2 separate regions of the Homo sapiens genome follow, and region 1 is linked to region 2. The links come from fine-mapping of genetic effects on gene expression. A gene starts in region 2. The other region holds a variant in brackets. All regions are shown on one strand. Distances are between the middles of the regions.

The links. PIP is the estimated chance that this variant, and not a neighbour inherited with it, causes the effect. A credible set is the group of variants that fine-mapping cannot tell apart.
Region 1: its variant is the best candidate, but not a certain one, in a credible set for the expression of MB21D2 in monocytes after Pam3CSK4 (Quach 2016, PIP 0.75).

Annotation. Positions count from the first base shown.
Region 1 is chr3:192,945,682-192,950,072 of GRCh38, reverse strand. No RefSeq gene overlaps it. Among named protein-coding and RNA genes, the nearest start is that of MB21D2, 30 kb to the right of the region's middle. The variant C/G (reference allele first, on the strand shown) is at 2,077.
Region 2 is chr3:192,915,464-192,919,854 of GRCh38, reverse strand. It overlaps MB21D2 (Mab-21 domain containing 2), which reads left to right and starts at 1,999. Exons shown (of 2, transcript NM_178496.4): 1 at 1,999-2,225. The coding sequence starts at 2,015. RefSeq lists a silencer at 1,694-2,053 and an enhancer at 2,704-3,033.

The DNA.
Region 1 (4,391 bases), 30 kb before region 2:
TCCTGACCTCATGATCCGCCCTCCTCGGCCTCCCAAAGTGCTGGGATTACAAGCGTGAGCCACTGCGCCCGGCCACGATGTAGATACTCTTATACACATTTTAGGTGATGAGAAAACTGAGGCTTAAGGAAAATAGTACCTGGTTCAATATAGCGCAGCTATAAAGTAATGGAATCTGGATTCAAGGTCTTGATAATTATTAGTTCTTTCATTAAATTTTTTTTTAAATTTTATATAATAAAATTGGCTTTCCTGATGTACAGTTCTAAGAATTTTAATACGTGTGTAGATTCATGCAAGCATCACTACAATCAGTATACAAATCAGTACCATCGCTTTACCCATTTGTAATCACACCTTCCTCCCATGCTAACCCCTGGAACTCAGTGATCTGGTCTCTGTCACATAGTCTTTTTCTTTGTGAGAATGTGACATAAATGGAATTTTGTAGTATATAACCTTTTCGAACTGACTTCTTCCACTCAGTATAATGTCTTTGAACTCCATTCTTGCTGCTGCATGGAACGATAGTCTCTTCCTTTACATTGCTGAGTAATTTTCTGTAATACAGATGTATCACATTTATTTATCCATTCATCTGTTGAAAGAAATTTGAGCTGTCTCAGGTTTTGGAGATCATGAATAGAGTCGCTATACGCATTACATGTAAGATTTTGTGTAAAGGTAAGTGTTTGTTTTGTGGGGATAAATACCTAGGAGTCAGGTTGTTGGGTCACATGGTAAGCATTTGTTTAACCTTACAACTGCCAACCTTTTCTAGAATGGTTGTATCTTGACTTCTCACCAGCAAAATATTACAGCTCCAGTGCCTCCACATCCTTATCAGCACTTGGTATTGTCAGTTACTGTTTTCTTTTTTTCTTTTCAGCCTTTCTTTTCCTTTTTTCTTTCTTCCTTTTTTTTTTTTTTTTTTTTTTTTTGAGATGGAGTTTCACTCTTGTTGCCCAAGCTGGAGTGCAATGGTATGATCTCGGCTCATCGCAACCTCCACCTCCCGGGTTCAAGTGATTATCCTGCCTCAGCCTCTCAAGTAGCTGGGATTACAGGCATGTGCCACCATGCCAGGCTAATTTTGTATTTTTAGTAGAGAGAGGGCTTCACCATATTAGTCAGGCCGGTCTTGAACTCCTGACCTCAGGTGATCCGCCCACCTCCGCCTCCTAAAGTGCTGGGATTACAGGCATGAGCCACCGTGCCTGGCCTAATTTCAGCCTTTCTAAAAAGTGTTTAATAGTATCTCATGGTGGTTTAATTTGCATTTTTTCTATTTGAACTTCTTCATGTGCTCATTAAAGAGATGCTAAACATCCCTTTCTGTGCTTATTTGCCATCTATATCCTCTTTAGCAAAGTGTCTATTCAAGATATTTGCCCATTTAAAAAAGTGTGTTTTTCTTACCATTGAGTTTTAAGAATTCTTTATATATTCGGAGTCCTTCATCAGAAATATGATTCACAACTATTTTCATCATCCAGTTCATAGCTTGTATTTTCATTATCTTAATAATGTATTTTACAAAGCAAACTTCTTAAATTGTTATGAAGTCCAGTTTATCAACTTTTCGTTTTAACGGATCATGTTCTTGGTGTCCTGTTTGAGAACTCTCTGACAGGAGGGTCTGGGTCAGAGAGAAGGAGAAAGTGATGGGAAGACACTACGGTACTGGCTTTGGTGATGGAGAAAGGAGCCACGAGCCAAGGAATGCAGGCCTCCCCAGAAGCTGGAAAAGACAGAGAAACAGTTTCTCCCCTAGAATTTCCAGAAGGATCGCAGCCCTGCTGACATCTTGATTTTAGCTTAATGAAACCCATTTAAGACTTACCTTCAGAAGTGTAAGATAATAAATTTGTAATAAGTAAATATTTTTAAGTCACTTAAAAAAATAAATAAAACAAAAAGCCTGTCTGCCTAACTTCAGGTCAAAAACATTTTGGTCCTATCAATTCTTTGAAAGGTTTTATAGGGCTGAGCCTCGTGGCTCATGCCTGTAATCCCAACACTTGGGAGGCCGAGGCAGCAGATTACTTGAGCCCAGCAATTTGAGAGCAACCTGGG[C/G]AACATGGTGAAACCCTGGCTCTACAAAACATAAAAATAAAAAATTAGCCGGGCGTGATGAAACCCACCTGTAGTCCCAGCTACTCAGGAGGTTGAGGCAGAAGGATCCCTTGAGCCCAGGAGCCCCAGGCTGTAGTGAGCCGTGTACTTGCCACTGCACTCCAGCCTGGGCGACCCTGTCTCAAAAACAAAAAGAAAAATAAAATAATAATAATAAAAAAAAAAACTACCAAAAACGGCTTTATAGTTTCATGTTTTACATTTAGCTCTATGATTCATTTTGAATTATTTTTATATAAAGTTTGAAGTTTTGGTCAAAGTTCTTGGCTTTGCATATGGATGACCAATTGTTTCATCATCCTTTGTTGAATAGACAAATCCTCTCTTCCATTAATTGTCTTTGGAAGCTTGCCAGAAATCAATTGACCATATTTCTACAGATGTCTCTGTGCTCTTGATTCTGTTCCACTGGTCAATACTGTCCTGAGATTACTGTAGCTTTATAGTAAGTCTTTAAATCTGATAGTGTGTGTGTAATTCTCCAAGTAGTTAATATTCTGAACCAAAAAACTATATGGCACAGATAGATCAGCTAGTGTCCTCTTTTCTTTTACCACCTGGAGGATGTTAATAATATGGTTTTTGATGTACAAAGGGGTGGAAAAGCAATGGGTCTGCCCTACTTTTCAGCTCAAGAGAGAAAAGTCCGGCTGTCGTTTGCAGCTTTTGCTCTTCCTGAACCACCTGGAAGCCCCCGTTAACCTAACATTCACTGTGCATTCATATATATTTATGCAACATACTTATTGAGTGTGTCTCTGTATTGGGCACTATTACAGAATTTGGGGAAGAACAGAAGAACAGGGCACACAAGGTTCTCCCTTCTTCAAAGATTATGTCAAACAGCAAACAAATAATATCTAAACAAAGAACACAAAACCAGATGGCCATTCTTCAGAGAACCAGAATTGGGTAAGGTAAAAGAATGACTCAGGTATCTTAGATTGCATGGCCAGAGAATGCTTCTCTGAAGAGGTGACATTTACACTGAGGTTTGAAAGACAAGAAGAAACCAAATGGGTGAACATGGAGAGGAAGAGTATTCTAGACTGTTAGTCTAAAAAGCTGTAGATGAAAACAAGTTTAGCATGTTTGAGAAACAAACAAAAATGACTGAGTTAGCTAGAAAGTGGTGAGCCAAGGAAAAGGTGTGAGGCAAGTTCTGAGAGGTGAGCAGGGGCAGGTTGCAGGAGGGCTCTGCCACCAGGACAAGAAGTTAGGCTTGACTCTAAGTGCTAGAGGAGGCCGTTAGAGAGTTTAAACCAAGACCAGTCACATGACCAAACACAGAACTGGGCTCCCAGATAAACAAATGAGAATAGGGCGTATCACGAGTCTTCCCAATCCCCATCCCCATAGAAAAATGTTCTCTGCTCACATTAAGCTTTTCTCCACACACACCACACACACACACACAATGATGTACATGAAATTCTAATGAAGTCAAGTTCAGGACTCCGTCTCTCATAACTTGCATATCATTTCTTCCTACTCTGGCCTCCAAGAGCGTGAGGAGAGGAAAGGGAAGAGGAGAGAGAGGAAGAAAAGTCACTTTCAGACTCTTGCTGCGTGTCAGGTGCTGCTGAGGGCCCACTACAGAGGAGGTTGAGCCCTGAGTGTGGGACAAAGCAGCCCCCAAAAGAGGAGCCCATCATCTCACCACCCCATGAGAAGTAGAAGCAGAGACCTCTGTTTGCAGAGACAGTGAGTTGTTTCATCACAGCTGCTGCTCCACGGTTCCCAATCTTCATAAACAATGAATTAAAGGAAAATTGGATTAAAATTATAGTATAAAGAAAAGTCTTGCATGGAAAGACTTTCCAGCTCTGAGGAGTTATAAGCACTGGACTGTATCTCTGAGCAGAGGGAAAAGAGAGTGTATTTATTCTATTTATTTAAACTCCACTTTGGATAAATAACGACCTCTGTGGAAACGTAAACACAGCACCTCGTCCCCATTACAGAATCGTGATTTCCAACTCTATGTCATCTCTTCTATCTTCACTGTGTATATATAATTTTTATGGGGATATTATCCCTGGATGCTTGCTTTCTAGAGTTCTGTTTTTGCTTAACATTTTACATATATTTTTCTACGTAGCAGCACAGTCTAAATATTTGCTATTTTACAGAGCTACACAGTGATACAATATAATAAGAATAGCCCACACTTACATAGTAATTACTATGCGTCAGGCACTGTTCTAACCACTTTACCAATTTTTACTTATTAAATGTTTTCTCACTAAAGCCCT
Region 2 (4,391 bases):
GAAGTGGTCAGGTGTGGTGGCTCACGCCTGTAATCCCTTTGAGAGATCTAGATGCAAGGACTGTTTAATCCCAGGAGGTTGAGGTTGCTGTGAGCCACGATTGTGCCACTGCACTCTGGCCTGGGCTACAGAGGAAGACCCTGTTTCAGAAACAAACAAACACACACACACACAACCCAAAACAAAAAGCAATGATGAAGCAAGGTCAAAATTCATTAGCATCATATGAAAGCTTCTGAGAGTAGGTTCTGAGGAAGGAAAAGTTGCCACCAGCTTGAGGGGAGGGTCTCCGGAAAGCTGTAAGAAAAAGGCAGACGCGGATTGGTTTTGGTGTAAACGGAGTAAAGAAGAGAGGAATTCCAGGGGGAGGTCAGTGGTCAGGTCTGTGTTTTCTAAAGATCACTCTGGCAACAAGTTGTTACTAGATTGAGGAACAGTGAAAGAATTAATAACAATAATAGTAGAAGCTGATAATAGCTAAGTACTTATTATGTCAGTCCTTGAACTAAGTGCTTGACCTGTTTTATCTCACGTAATCCTTAAAACAACCTGTGAGACAGGAATTATTATTCCCATTTTATAGGGGAAGGCATGGAAGAGTCCGTACTTCCTTCCATGTCTAACAAAACAATTTGTATTCTTGGCCATGAGAACTCGGGTAAGAAAGTGAAACAGACCTGATCTAAATCAGGGACTGTGGGATAGAGAAGAGAGATTTTGGAGAATTAGGGAGGAAGATAACCTATGTTTCTCACAGCCAATGGGCCTCCTAAGTGTTTGAATGATACACCCCATAAACACTAAAACCACCTCTGAGACTCTATTCTGCCTAAAGGACTATGACTTAGATTGAACCTGCCTTGTCATGTAAGCCTAACTCCATGGTAGGAGCCATGTCTTTTGGTTATCACTGTCACATTCTGTCACTCCATCTGGCAAATGGTGCGTACTCAAATTTTATCTGTTGAATGAGAAAATTTTCATCTTGTCATCCAACATTTCTTGGAACCTGGGGCAATACATTGTTTCCCCTCTCCCACACCCACACTTCAGTTTCCCTATCTTTATATTAGAGTAGGTTGAATCTCATTAACTCATTATATGTTAAGATAAATAAGCTGTTATTCAGGTCATTAATTACCTTGGGCAAAGGTAGGGATATCTAGGGGTTAGTGGGAGTGCCAATACTGGGTTAGATGTGGACCCTCTTTTTTTATACGCTCAATCCTATCATCTTGGCAATCCAAGAGGAAAAGGGTAGAAGACAGGTTTCATATTCCTTAAGGCAGTTTCCTTTACTATTTAAAGGTATTGGAGTTCTTGGGATAGAGAGGTAAACGCGCACAGAGATGTCCTCCCCCAGGACACCGCCCTTAAAATCAAACGGAGGAAGACTTTCTTCTCCTTGAATGCGCTTGGCAAACCCTGCCCAGAAAGGGGATGGGGGGACGGCCGTGGAGGTGGAGAAAGAATGCATCCACACCTCGCGCGTCTTCCCAAGTACGGATTGGCAAGTGGTATATGCGTGCAGACCTCTGTCATTTATTTATTTTCCTTTCCACTGGGTGCGCTGTCCCTTTAAATGGAGACGCTGGTGCTGGCTCCGTAACACCGGAGCCGGCAGCTTGTTGATTTCAGAGCTGGTGAATTTCACATTGTTTCCACTTCACTTTCCTCGCCCGGGGGAGGCTCCAGTTGGCTCTACGACCGCCGTTGCCGCTGCCAGAGAGGGCCAGGGCAGGGCAGGGACGCGCAGCATCGGGGCGGGCGTGGGGCCGGAGAAAAGGGTGTCGGGGCCACACACGCACCCTCGCTGCAGTCCAGCTCCTCCCGAAGCTCGCACGCCCAGAGCGCACGGAGCGGGGGACTGCCCGCCCAGACGCCCGCCCGCCAACCCGCCCACGAGCCGGGGCCAAAGCCTGGGAGCCTGCGAGGGGAGGAGGCCCAGGGGGGCGGGGTGGGGGGCGGGGGTGGGTGCCGCGCTGCCGCGGAGCTGCTACTCGGCGCGTTTTGCATGAAGATGGCGGCTCCCACCGCCAACAAGGCAGCCTCCCTGGGCTGTAACAACAAGCCTGCGTTCCCGGAGCTGGATTTCAGGTCGGGAGCTCGGGTGGAGGAATTGAACAAACTCATCCAAGAATTTACGAAGCACGACCAGCGGGAATACGACGACCAGAGAGCGCTGGAGATTCACACAGCCAAGGATTTCATCTTTTCCATGCTGGGTAAGGAGGAAAAAGGGGGAGGTGTGTGTGCGTGTGTGTGTGTGATGGGAAGCGGAGTAGAAAACCCATTGCCGCTTCTCGACCTCTTCCCTTCTGGGTTGCCTTCCCGAGCCGGTGCCTTGGGTATAAGCCATCTCTGTTCCGCCTCTCTCTTCTTTCTCCGCCGAAAGCCGAGCTGCCTGCCCTCCCCTCCTTACTATACTTTACGCCGGGTCTCCCTTTCCCCCTGTTCGCTTGCTCTTTTGTTAATTTCTCCGCCACCTGGGGCTGGCAGGCAGGTGAGGCGTTCGCGGTGAAGCGTTGCACTGTTGGGGGAAGCCCCTGGAAGCGAGTGCAGTCCAGGTGAGCCCCTGAGGTGCCTTCAGTTGAGGGATTTGGCTGCCGGAGGCAGGGACCTCCGCTTTCCCGACGCCGGCTCTTGGGTGCTCTCCCGAGCTTGGGAGCGGAGACGGCTCAGGGCTCTGGCTTGGCGCCCGAGCGACAAGTTGCTTCTGTCGTCTCGCGGCGCGGCGCTGTCATGCCGAGCCCCCGGTGGCCAAACTTGTTGGGTGTTCCCGAGTAACCCGCTGAAGTAGTCTAGGCGTCCGGAGTTCCTGCAACTTTGATTTGCAAATTGACTTCTCTTATGAAGCGATCGGAAGCATTTCCGGTGCTTCTTCAGGGCTCTCGCTGAGCTCGGAATTCTTAATTCCCAGCTCTTCCGTGACTAGGCGCGGAGCTCTGGCCGCAGAGGAGCGCCGGTTCCCTGCTCTTTGTGTATTGTCTTAGCGCTGGCCGAAAGAGGTGCCCAGAGTTTCCAACCGCGGAGACGTCGGGGGCTAGAAAATGTGTCCCCCACTCCCACCTCCAGCCCCTCACCTACGGCTCCTGAAACATGATTGAATGCTGTGTAAAGGAACATAATTGAGCCAGGCCCGGGAGACCGAGCCCACCCTCCCCAGGTGTCCTGCCGTTGGGATTATTGCTACTGAGGTGTAGTGTGAGTTTGCCAGGCGCCTGGGTTGTAACTTGCGGCTCCGCCAGCGGATCCGTGGCTGTCAAGCGGTGCGTGGCCGGCGGTCAACATTCCGAAGAACTGGTACTCCAGGGTAGCGCTGCTCTAACGCTCGTCTCTGGGTGCTCTCTACAAATAGATAAGCCAATTTTCCAGGTGTTGAAAAATTTGATTGGGAAAGGTCTTTTGGCCACAGACTAAGACAGGGCTTTTCTCTTTCTCCTGCAATCTAATTGGGTTTCAGCCGGCTGTTGCTGCTTCTATCCTGGGATACCTTCTTCCTTCTAGGTTTTCTTCTTCCTCACTGCCCAAGGACGGGGTAATACAGACTGAACGTGTCTGTGTCCGCTGGTAGTTGTTCACGCGTTGGGAAGTTAGATGAAACATGTTAAAACTCTAGGCTGGTTTTTACCTTTTGCGCCGCACTCTTCAAGTGTGTCTTACGTTGCGTATGAGGTTGAAAAACTATTGAGAGATTCAGCCGTTCAACTATGTAGATGAATAGATGAATTAAATATATATATATATATATATATAAAACCTGGTAGGAGTGAGCTTCCACAGGGAAGCCTAAAATGCTTACAAAGCCAAAAGCCAACACAGTGATTGTCAGGAAGGTGGGGCCACACACAGAAGGCTGAGCGCAGTTACTTAAGTTGTTTAGTTAATCATAGCCTTTCTCTGTGGCATAAATAATGGAAGTCTGCCATTGTGTTAATACAGCCCCCAGATCAGTTCTGATGTCACTTGCGTAGGTCATTTACTAGAAGAAGGTACTGGGTCACCACCAGTTAGGGTAGTCATGGGTCAGGAAATGGGATAATGTAGGGAGGGTAAATTTAAGTGCCTGGCTCATGAGGAACTTCTGTGCTTAACTCCAAAGCTGATACACTGAATCAGCAAAGCTTTTATCCAAATATAAAAAAGTAAATTATTCTAGGGTGCTTAATTTTTGCATGTGTTTAATGCCATGGGTGGCATTGTGTTGACAGGTAAACTAGATTTGCTTCTATTCCTTTTTACCCAGTTGACCTTGCAAGCAGTCTTTCTTGCCCCCTGGGAATTTAGCATTTCCACCTGCAGGAGAGAAGATTCAAGAGAGTGTCATTTAAGCCTTTTGCCCCTCTGGACACTAGAAGGCAGATGGCGAAATGAGCTTGCTTGCCTGTGTG